3 linked regions of the Homo sapiens genome follow. The protein of the gene in region 1 purifies or fractionates together with the protein of each later gene. This does not show direct contact. Each region holds a gene or a part of one and is shown in the gene's direction. Other genes may lie near its edges.

Region 1 (3,655 bases):
TACAAAATACAGTGGATGATTTGAGTGACTATTTTCTCAATTCCTCCAAGGATGGTACATAACTAGTGCCAATTCAGATGCAGAGGGGAGAAGTTAATTCATTCCATACAATGGATGTCTTGGGCTTAATTCTCTCCTGGGAACCCAGGTTAGTTGGACTGCATATATGGCAAAGTCTTAAAAGGATTTTGCTTTGACTGGCTTGTGATGTTTATCTAAAAAACTTTTTTTTTTTTTTTTTTTTTTTTTTTTTTTTTTTTTTTAGATTACAGGTCCACCAGGTTGTGGAAAAACTCAGTTTTGTATAATGATGAGCATTTTGGCTACATTACCCACCAACATGGGAGGATTAGAAGGAGCTGTGGTGTACATTGACACAGAGTCTGCATTTAGTGCTGAAAGGTATGAGATTTTATTTTCTATTATAATGTTTTACTTTTGTAACTTATATACAGCATGAAACATTTACACATAGGTTAACATTTACCACCCCTCCCCCTTGCCTTTTTTTTTTTTTTGAGATGGAGTCTTGCTCTGTTGCCGGGCTGGAGTGCAGTGGCACGATCTGGGCTCATGGCAATCTCCACCTCTTGGGTTCAAGCGATTCTCCTGCCTCAGCCTCCCGAGTAGCTGAGACTACAGGTATGCACCACCACACCTGGCTAATTATTCTATTTTTAGTAGAGACAGGGTTTCACCATGTTGGCCAAGCTGGTATTGAACTTCTGGCCTCAAGTGATCTGCCCACCTTGGCCTCCCAAAGTGCTGGGATTATAGGCGTGAGCCACTGTGCCTGGCTTTTTTTTTTTTTTTTTTTTTGAGATGGAGTCTCTCTCTGTCGCCCAGGTTGGAGTTCAGTGGCAGGATCTCAGCTCACTGCAACCTCCGCCTCCCGGGTTCAAGCGATTCTCCTGTCTCAGCCTCCTGAGTAGCTGGGATTACAGGCGCCCTACCACCAGGCCTAGCTAATTTTTGTATTTTTAGTAGAGACAGTGTTTCACCTTATTGGCCAGACTGCTCTTGAACTCCTGACCTTGTGATCCGCCTGCCTTGGCCTCCCAAAGTGCCGGGATTACAGGTGTGAGCCACTGCGCCTGGCCTAAATTGGTCTTTTTATAAATGTATCCCAGTAGTAAATGAATAAGGAATGATAGAATATCACCAAATTACAAACTCTGACAATCTAATGGATCTAGGCATTTAACATCACAAAAAGATGACGAGTCACTGGGGTACTTTCTGATGGAAGAACAATCAAATTTGAATGTGATCAAGGCTTCAGATCCAGCCACCAATTTACAACCTAGCTAGAGAAGAGAGGAACACATCAAACTGCTCTAGAAAATGCAATTAGCAGAATCCAAACTGTGGGAAATAACAGAACAAACAACTTGGTTTCTGTAACAAATAAATTGTAAGATTAAAAAATAGTTGGAAGGGGAACCTTTGGATTAAAACAGATTTAAAAGCCTTATTGATCAATTGCTGTGTGATTAACTTATTTGGATCTTGACTTAAATAAATGGTTAAAAAAAAGAACAGAAGAATAAACATTGAGACTACTGGAAATTTGAACATGAAAATATATTTGAGATTAAAGCTGGTAAAGACTGGTTCACTCAAATTGTCCAAGTACTCTTTAAAATGCCAATGACTAGCCTTCGACTAACAAGCCAAGTAGGTATTAAATAGCCAGTTATGTCATAAATAGCTAATGTTCAAATAGCTCTTACAAAGGTCCTGGGGAATTTGGGTAAAGAATTCAAAGATTAAGATTATTTTTATAACAGCAGTTCAGTTCACTGTAATGGATTTCTGCTTTCTTTGCACCACATACAAAACAGAGTTTAGGATGTCTTCTTAAGGAGGAAACTGTTGCATGTTATTTTATTACCAGTATTACAGTTCAGAGCAGTGTAAAAACCTTATCAATGAATTGGGTGATATCAGCATACATACAGAAGACTAGCAGGTGACTTGTCTGCATTTTCCAAATGAATTTGTGGAGAGTCTTATGTTTTTTGTCTTTGCATAGAGCCTTAATTATTTACTTTTTGAATCCCCCATATTTACTTATTTCTCCTTCATATCTTTTTCTGCCAATGTGCATGTTGGTATTTACATCAGAGGCAGGTTGGAAAATGAAGAGGTAATATTTTAGCTCCTTTGTTGGAATTACGTTGCATAGTTCACAAGGAGCTCTTATGAAGGTCATTTGAGAATAGGGGTTGAACTTTATATTGTATTTGGTTTTTTATTCCATTCTCCACAAGGCTTAAAATGAGTGATCATCTGGCTCACACATGGAATGGATTTTGAGGTCTGGTGATAGGGCCAAGTAGAATAAAAAATATGAATGCTCTCCGATATATATGCCAGATTTGGCATTCTTATACTACCTTCTAGTTTGTCATGGTGGGTCATAGAATGGAACTGGCCCTGTAGTGTCTGATCACATTTCATTCATTCTGTTACAGGACAGCTTAACCCCTATTTGGAATTATCAGGAAAGGTTGGCCAATCGGTTAGGAAAGCTTACTGCTGCAGATAACTGAGTATCCAAAGAACAGTAGCTTAAACAAAAAGAGGTTTATTTCTCTCATATAACAAGACCTGAGTAGGTGGTTGCTGGCACTGGGTCACTCAGGTCTCAGTGATGACAGAGAGACCTAGGGCATGCACATTTTCAGACATCGGATTCATTCTGTGCTCAAGTCAGTGTGAAGAAAAAGGGCCAGCTATATCTTTTATCAGGAAAGTGTACTTTTATTCATAATATCTGCCTCCTCCCATCTGTGGATTTCCTTTTTGTTGCCTGTAGTCCTCTTGTAGATTTCTCACTGAGTCACCTCTATATGTAAAAAGAGGCTGGGAAAGTGAGGGGAGAAGATCGTCGTAACAATCATGATGAGTTGTCTGGTTAATATTGCTGCCTGAATAAAACTGGGGCTCTCATAGCGAGGAAGAAGTGGAAATGGATATTGGATTGGTAATTAACAGTTTCTGTCCCAGCCCCAGCTGTTTCTGGACTTAGAGAAGAGGTAAGGCAGGGAAATATGAGACGCAAAAAGGACTATGTTGTAGCTCTGTATGTGTTCACATTGTCTCCACTTTGTGCTTGCAAAGCTAGCCGGCTAACCAGCACAAATGAGAAAGTGTTTAAAGGATTAATATGATGAAGGATTAAAGGATTCACATATATAGAATTTAGGGTACGTGAGAAAAAGTTGAAAATAATTTCTTCCTATAAATATCTAGATATCTTTTTACTAAGAAGGAGAGAGAAATCAAAGGAGGAATAAATACAAACTACTTAGGTTTAAAATGTATTAAAGAGGGAGGAGCCAAGATGGCCGAATAGGAACAGCTCTGGTCTACAGCTCCCAGCATGAGCGACGCAGAAGATGGGTGATTTCTGCATTTCCATCTGAGGTACCGGGTTCATCTCACTAGGGAGTGCCAAACAGTGGGCGCAGGTCAGTGGGTGCCCGCACCACATGCAAGCCGAAGCAGGGCGAGGCATTGCCTCACTCGGGAAGCGCAAGGGGTCAGGGAGTTCCCTTTCCGAGTCAAAGAAAGGGGTGACAGACGGCACCTGGAAAATCGGGTCACTCCCACCCGAATACTGTGCTTTTCCGACGGGCTTAAAAAACAG
Region 2 (3,655 bases), on another chromosome or scaffold:
AAAGGAGGAGAGGGGTGGAAGACAGAAACCACACACATATACCTGCAAATGTGACTTGGTCTGTTTTTTTCCCCCATTTAATCAGGGATTGTTGTCTGAGATTCTGCGTAAGGAAGAAGACCCTCGGACAGCCTCTCAGTCTCTTCTAGTAAACCTGAGGGCCATGCAGAATTTCCTCAATCTGCCAGAAGTGGAGCGAGATCGCATCTACCAGGATGAGAGGGAGCGGAGCATGAATCCCAATGTGAGCATGGTCTCCTCGGCCTCCAGCAGTCCCAGCTCCTCCCGAACCCCTCAGGTGAGAAACTTGCTTTCCGTATTTTTCACTCTTTGTCTTGGAAACATCTTGCCTTCACTAGTTACTGTGTTTTCCCTCAAACATTGAGAGACATAATTCAAGGATTTCTTTCCTTTTTTTCTTTTCTTATTTTATTTTATTTTATTTTAATTTTTTTGAGATGGAGTCTTGCTTTGTCACACAGGCTGGAGTGCAGTAGCATGATCTCGGCTCACTGCAGCCTCCGCCTCCTGGGTTCAAGGAATTCTCCTGTCTCAGCCTCCCAAGTAGCTGGCATTAGAGGCACCAACCACCATGCCCTGCTAATTTTTGTATTTTTTGTAGGGATGGGGTTTCACCATGTTGGCCAGGCTCTTCTCGAACTCCTGACCTCAGGTGATCCGCTTGCCTTGGTCTCCCAAAGTGCTGGGATTACAGGCGTGAGCCACCGTCCATGGCCAATTCTATGATTTCTTAATCCGCTGAACATGTTGGTCAGAGGATATGAACTTCTGACCATATATGATCCCATACTATATTTCTGTCCCTTTAGGAAGTCCCATTCTTCCATACGTGGTAGGTGAGGGGTAGGAAGGTAGGAGTGGGCACAGGGGCGGGCTCTAGGATGTTTATACATAGCTGCTCAGTTAGGAGTTAGGGCATTTGTGTTGAAGCTGAGTTTGCATAGCAAGCACACTGCTTTCCCTCAAATTGTATGTTTATTTGGTTGGGCTGGATGGGGTAGAGGTGGCTGAGGGCAGGGGGCAGAGGGTAGTTGAAGCTCTGTTTTATGTAATCTGAAAAAGACAAAATGGAGGAACACTTGCAGTGGAAGCATGCATATGCAGTGTCCAGATCAGAATGACTGAGATGTCACTCAATGATCCTTTAGAAAATGATGGTGGAAAGGTAGGCCTTAATTATTTTCCATCCTAGGATGATCTCCCCACAGAATTTGGTGACTTCCATTCTTCCTCTCCACACACTTGAAAAGTATTCTTTTCTTAGGCCCTCATGCAAATGTATACATCTAGTAATGTGTGCTTCAAAGCTCCTAACTCAAGGGTCAAGGTCTCAAGGCAGTCAGGGGTCATTTCTAGTTCACATCCAAGCCCACTCATTTCTGGCCTATCCCCTATTTCCCCTAAACTTTTACTACTCGATAGATTTATGATAAGGCCAGTCCGTTCACTGTTGCTATGATAGTTGCAGGTTCTGTCTGAGTGCTAATTCTCAAAACCAGTATTTAACAGGTATAAATTTTTTTTGTTTGTTTTTGAGAAGGAGTCTCACTTTGTTGCCCAGGCTGGAGTGCAGTGGTGTGATCATGGCTTACTGCAGCCTCTGCTTCTCAGGTTCAAGTGATTCTCCTGCCTCGGCCTCCCGAGTAGCTGGGATTACAGGCACATGCCACCACACCAGGGTAATTTTTTGTATTTTTAGTAGAGGTTGGGTTTCACCATGTTGTCCATGCTGGTCTCGAACTCCTGACCTCAAGTAATCTGCCCACCTCGGCCTTGCAAAGTGCTGGGATTACAGGCATGAGCCACCGTGCCCGACCTAATGGATATACATTTATACAAAGCTGAAAAATGGGCGGTTCAAAACCAAAGGTTGTTTTGCTTAGATATTATAGCTTTGGTTTTGCGTTTTCTGATAAATTCTAAGGAACTGATTAAGCATAGAAGCAGAATTGTATCCTAGTAGAAATATTTGAGCTTTTTCAAGTATATCCATTTTTTCACACATTTTAACTCTTTTTATATTTTTGTACTCTGCAATAAACTTTTAATTGAAGATTACTTTCTATCATGCACTGCCAAATTGTGTTACTTACACTTCAGTCTTTAGTGAATTATGAGTTTTAGTTACTGTTTGAACCAAAAATAAGTCTCTTGACTGCTTACTTTGGATGAGTATAACCAAGCATTTTTGTTTACTTAAAAAAAAATCTGGGGACATACATACTGAGCTAGTAAGTTGGGCAAGTTGTTAATGTGCACTAATATTTACTTCTGCTAAATTCATCAATATTTTTGCCACTTTTGAAGCCCATTAAACCATTATAGAAGAGCCCAGGCATACTTCATGGCCATTTGACAAGGCAGCTCTTCTTAGAAAGTTACTTCTGCTTGTTAGAAATTAACACAGGTCTGTGTATTTGTTTTCAGCTCTTTTGTACTATTTTCCTAACAAGATTATATATCGTAGGCACCTTTTCAAAGACCTAATAGCTTTCAGTGCCAGACTGACTTACAAGGCCCCACAGTTAGGGTCAGTATTTTGCTTATTTTGACCAGAATGCCATCTAGAAAATTCATACAGATGCCCTTTAGGGATAGGTGTAGCAGGGAAATCTCTTATTTAATATCACAGTTTTGATATTTTTGAAAATAAATATTTAAACATGTTTTTGAGAATACGGTCATGGCATTGCATTTGTACATTCTCTAGAATTGTCTTTTTCTCTTGGGTAAAGATTGAGAAAGGAGAGTTTATTAAAGTCTTTTAAAACATTTCATGATTACTGACTTAAAATTCTTTACAGTCATATCTCAACAGTAAAGATCGTAGTACAGTACAGATTTTATTGTGAGAACAAGTATTAGAGGAGTACTCACTGACTCAGCCTTTTAGTTGGAGTCAGCAATTTAGTGCACACAAGCAGCTTGACATTGATGCAGGGAGATTATTTTCCAGACCCCATCTATACTTTATTAGTAGCTGAAAAACAAATTGAAGAAATTTGAAATTTGAAATTATACCTCCAGTCTCTTTTTATTTCTTCAGCTGGCCAGCATTCCATGGTGTACTTAATAATGACAAAACAATACTAAGATAAGAATGATCATTTGTTAAAACGCTTACTGTGTATTAGGTGTTGTGAACATTTTGCATGAATTCAGTTGTCACCATTTTATGGTATTATGCCCATTTTACAGATGAGGGAACTGAGGTTTAGATGGATTCAGTAACTTGTGTAAGGGCACATGGCTGAGGGGTTTCGTCTTAGCCCTCATGGTTGGAGAGAAGGCTTGACCAATCAGGTAGGATGAGATAGTCAGTGAGGCAAATTAAGAAAACTGAATTGAGAAAGGGCAGACATGCTATGCTAAAACGTTCTCTTAACAGGGAAAGCACTGTGGGTTAACTAGAAATTTTGAGCAGAACAAATAGTTTATTTTAAAAAATTACAGATAATTGAATTTTTAATGGGAAAGTCCCAACATAGCAAGAAAATTCTTACAACAGCACCTGGCATAAATTGGAGATTTTGGAGGCAGTGTGTAGTGCAGTGTCCTGAGCCCATGTTTTTGAGCCTGAAAGACTTGCGTTCAGATCATGGTTCCTTCACTGGCTGCTGGGTGTCCTAGGTTA
Region 3 (3,655 bases), on another chromosome or scaffold:
TCAGAGCAGATGTGTTCTTGACACTGCAATTTATAACTTACATGCACATATTAGGAATTTATTTGTTTAGGCCTTCATCTTGTCATTCTTTAGGCTAGTTCTTAAAGGTGGTACTAGCTGGTCTACCCCCCTCCAAATCTGACTAGGGCTTTAACCACTTATACCTATGTTTATTCTTTGGAACACTTGCTGTGAATCAGAATATTGTTAGCTAGAAAATAAGATGTTAAGGGCACGGAAAAAAACCCCACAAAATATATTGGCTAAATCCACTCAAAACTGGAGAAAATACTGTGTGATCTCTTAGGCTCACTAGCCAAGGATGTTCCTTGGGACTCTCCTCTGCACTGCGGTTATTTACATATATACATTAAACATAAAAATATTTCTGAAATAGTGTTATAACTAGTCAGCTAAGTAAAGGAACTGCAAAACTATATTCTTATATTTACTGTGAAAGATAATCAGAAAGAATCTGCTTTATTTAGAACTTGACTAGTCAGTAGTTAAGTATACAGAATGTTCTAGACCTAATGAACTGAATACAGATAAATACAATTTTGTTGTTCTTCATGGAAGAGTGACATTTCAGTAGATCCCCACTCTGCCAGGGGAAGGAATTGTCAAGGTGACTTATTCTTTTGAGCAAGTTCTGATAGTAATTGGAAACTGGTGAATTAGAATGGTAATTAAAGCCCAGTGAAAAATGACCTCCTACTGGAAAAACTGGAGGAATACAGAAGGCTAAAAATAGTGAACACTTAATACCAACAGATTTTCTGAAGGAAGACTTCTTAGTTTCTCTAAATGGGAAATCTTACATTATCCTCTAAAGGAAAAATAAGCAAGTAGTTGAGGAAACTATGTTTTTTTTTTTCCCCCTTTTTCTTGAGACAGTCTCACTCTGTTGCCCAAGCTGAGGGCAGTGGCGTGATCACGGTTCACTGCAGCCTCGACTTCCCAGGCTCAAGCAGTTTTCTTGCCTCAGCCTTACTAGTAGCTGGGACTACAGGTGCATACTACCAGGCTTGGCTAATTTTTGTTTTTTTTTTTTGTAGAGATGAGGCCACTGTGTTGCCCAGGCTGTTTTCGAACTCGTGGACTCAGTGATCCACCTACTTTGGTCTCCCAAAGTGTTGGGATTACAAGTGTGAACCACCACACCCAGCCCAAGTAATGGATTTTTAAGGGCCTCAGTTGCATAGGAGTTTTTTATTCAGGCTGCAAAATTCCTGTGTTTTATTATATATTCCTTTTTATCTGTATTTTCTATTCACAATTCTCTTGTTTCCATAGACCGCCTTTTTCACATATATCCATATATTTATACATTTTGTTGTAAACTCTAGTCTATAGGTATTTTTAATTCACATTGTATATTACATTCTGGAATGTACAAGGAACTAACACAAATCAATAAGAAAACAAATTAGCTTTAGACATTGAAGAATCTCCCCCAACCCATCGTCTATTATTTTTGTCTATGGTGACTTTCGTTTAACAGAAATCCTTGGTTTTTATGTAATCAAATTCATTGTGTTTTTTTTTTTTAAATTAAGAGGTTGGTCTTTTTGAGTCTTAAGAAGTTCCTTTTCATTCGAAGTCATAAAGTTCTTCCCAATAAATTATACAATAAGTTTGTCAGGTTTCTGAAAAACCAAAGCAGATGTTTTTAAACAGCTTTTGATCTCTTGCCTATACGGTGGCTCAACAAACAAGATGCCAGAATTTGCATGTGTGGGGCTGGGTTGTTTTGTGGTAAATAGTGAACTGTCTTAAAGTCCAAAAACAAAGCTTATTATTTCTGGATTGAAAAGGGAATACAGTAAGGGCCCCATGGAAAAGTACTAAGACTTTTTATGAAAATGAGGGGTGGAGGCACTCTGAGTGGTTAGATTTGCTCAACTTGTGTGCACTCGCTCAGTGGAGGAGATAGGAAGAAGGACATGTAAATAATAGGATATTGATTGATATTGATTAATCATTTTGCCGATGCCAAAGGACATACTTCACTGTCTGTGGAAAAGATTGCCTTTTTCTCCCTAGGAAGTTTGAATACCTTTTAAATATGAAATTTCATGTGCATGACCTATTTCCCCACTGCCACACCTCATGCTCACACTAGGCTTATGATTCAGTCACCCACTTAAGTTCACGTGATGTCATTTCAGGGAGAATTGCAGCTACATCCTTTTGAGAAGAAAGCGATTCAGCTGGGCATGTAGGTTAGAGTCTTTAGTTCTTAGTCTTCTCATTCCTCCTGTGAAATTATCTACATTTAACAGCTTTCACTGAGTATTTTCTTCTTTCACTCGACTGTTAGAAGACATTTCCCAACCTGCAAATATGCCATTCCTGCCCCAACATGACCAACTGAGAGCTTCAGGCTTTACATGATTTTTCACAGCCCACTGAGCTTTGTAATATATAGAACACAATCTTTAGAGCTTCAGTCCTTGCTGTGCTATAATACCAACATAATAAGAGTAGCTAATATTTATCAGATGTTTACTATACATCAAACACCAATGTCTCATTTCATGACTTGTGTGACTTAAGAGGTCCAGTTCTTAACACATGGTCTCATTTTAGTATCACAGTTCTGATGATGAAGGCAGGGCTGATGTTTCCTCATCTTGCTGAAGCATGGAGAGGACTTGTCTAAAATCCCATAGCTACTAAGGGGAGCTGGGGCTAAAACCCAGATTTCTTGGGTTTTCACACCCTGCTACTATTAGCTTAAGCCTATCAAATTCTGAGTGCTTATTGGCTGATAGGATAGTCACATCATGGAGTGCCTAAATTAACACTACATGTGAATTTACCGTGTCGACTATAGCTTGAAATGGCGCCCACTGCCTGATGCCTACCAGTCTTTCTATTATACATGCTTCATTAAGCCCTACCTTTTCTCCACATTTCCCAAGAAGTGATTTTCTTTGGTTCTTGAAGTACTTTTGTACAGATCATTGGAGCTTAACTTCGTTCCTTTATCAGGAAGTGTTTTATCTCACCTGCAAGTTCAGTAAACACAATTAGCAAGTGAGGTGGCTTTGGAAAGGAATAGTACACCCTGAAAGAAACATAGTGCCCAGAAACTAGATATTGGATATTGCAAATTTTTCTTTTAGGTTACTAGAGCCACCTTCCTGAAGCCCACTTGGAGAAAGTCACTCAAAATAGTTCTGTGACCACCATTTAGCCCCAGTTCTCATATTGTATACTTGAGACTCTGGACAGTAAGACGAGGCAGGGTTGTAAGTTTGCACCCAATACCAGCTTACAAATATTCTTACATTACTGGTTTGGGTTTTAAATTATCTTTGCCTCTTCTTTCTCATCTTCCCTCACTTTTTTGTCATTTCAATTAAAGAAATATTTGCCAAGTACTGACCTTAGTGTTGCTAGGCATGAGTTCCAAGGAGCTCAGATAGCTTAGAACCAGCCCCATTTGACTTGAGCTTTTCTCGCCTCTTAGCACAGAAGGAATGGGTTGGCGTCATTATGGTTTGTTTTGAGTAACATGTATTCAGTCTGATATGCTATAGGGAGTTGTTGAAGGTGTTTGAGCAGGGGAAGCAACTGGTTTAAAATTGTTGTATAGGAAGATAAATCTGGTAGTGGTGCACAGGATGGATTAGAACACAGGGCGACT

Evidence for each region.
Region 2: the proteins of RAD51B (region 1) and SATB2 purify together in Homo sapiens (affinity purification with mass spectrometry; one large-scale study listed by BioGRID and IntAct). This does not show direct contact.
Region 3: the proteins of RAD51B (region 1) and MTR purify together in Homo sapiens (affinity purification with mass spectrometry; one large-scale study listed by BioGRID and IntAct). This does not show direct contact.

What each region holds. Positions count from the first base shown.
Region 1 is NC_000014.9:67,864,738-67,868,392, forward strand, and holds part of RAD51B (DNA repair protein RAD51 homolog 2), read left to right. Parts: intron 1-50; exon of another isoform or gene 51-148; intron 149-265; coding exon 266-402; intron 403-3,655. UniProt on the Homo sapiens protein: Involved in the homologous recombination repair (HRR) pathway of double-stranded DNA breaks arising during DNA replication or induced by DNA-damaging agents. May promote the assembly of presynaptic RAD51 nucleoprotein filaments.
Region 2 is NC_000002.12:199,325,341-199,328,995, reverse strand, and holds part of SATB2 (DNA-binding protein SATB2), read left to right. Parts: intron 1-85; coding exon 86-298; intron 299-3,655. UniProt on the Homo sapiens protein: Binds to DNA, at nuclear matrix- or scaffold-associated regions. Thought to recognize the sugar-phosphate structure of double-stranded DNA.
Region 3 is NC_000001.11:236,798,253-236,801,907, forward strand, and holds part of MTR (methionine synthase), read left to right. Parts: intron 1-3,655. UniProt on the Homo sapiens protein: Catalyzes the transfer of a methyl group from methylcob(III)alamin (MeCbl) to homocysteine, yielding enzyme-bound cob(I)alamin and methionine in the cytosol. MeCbl is an active form of cobalamin (vitamin B12) used as a cofactor for methionine biosynthesis.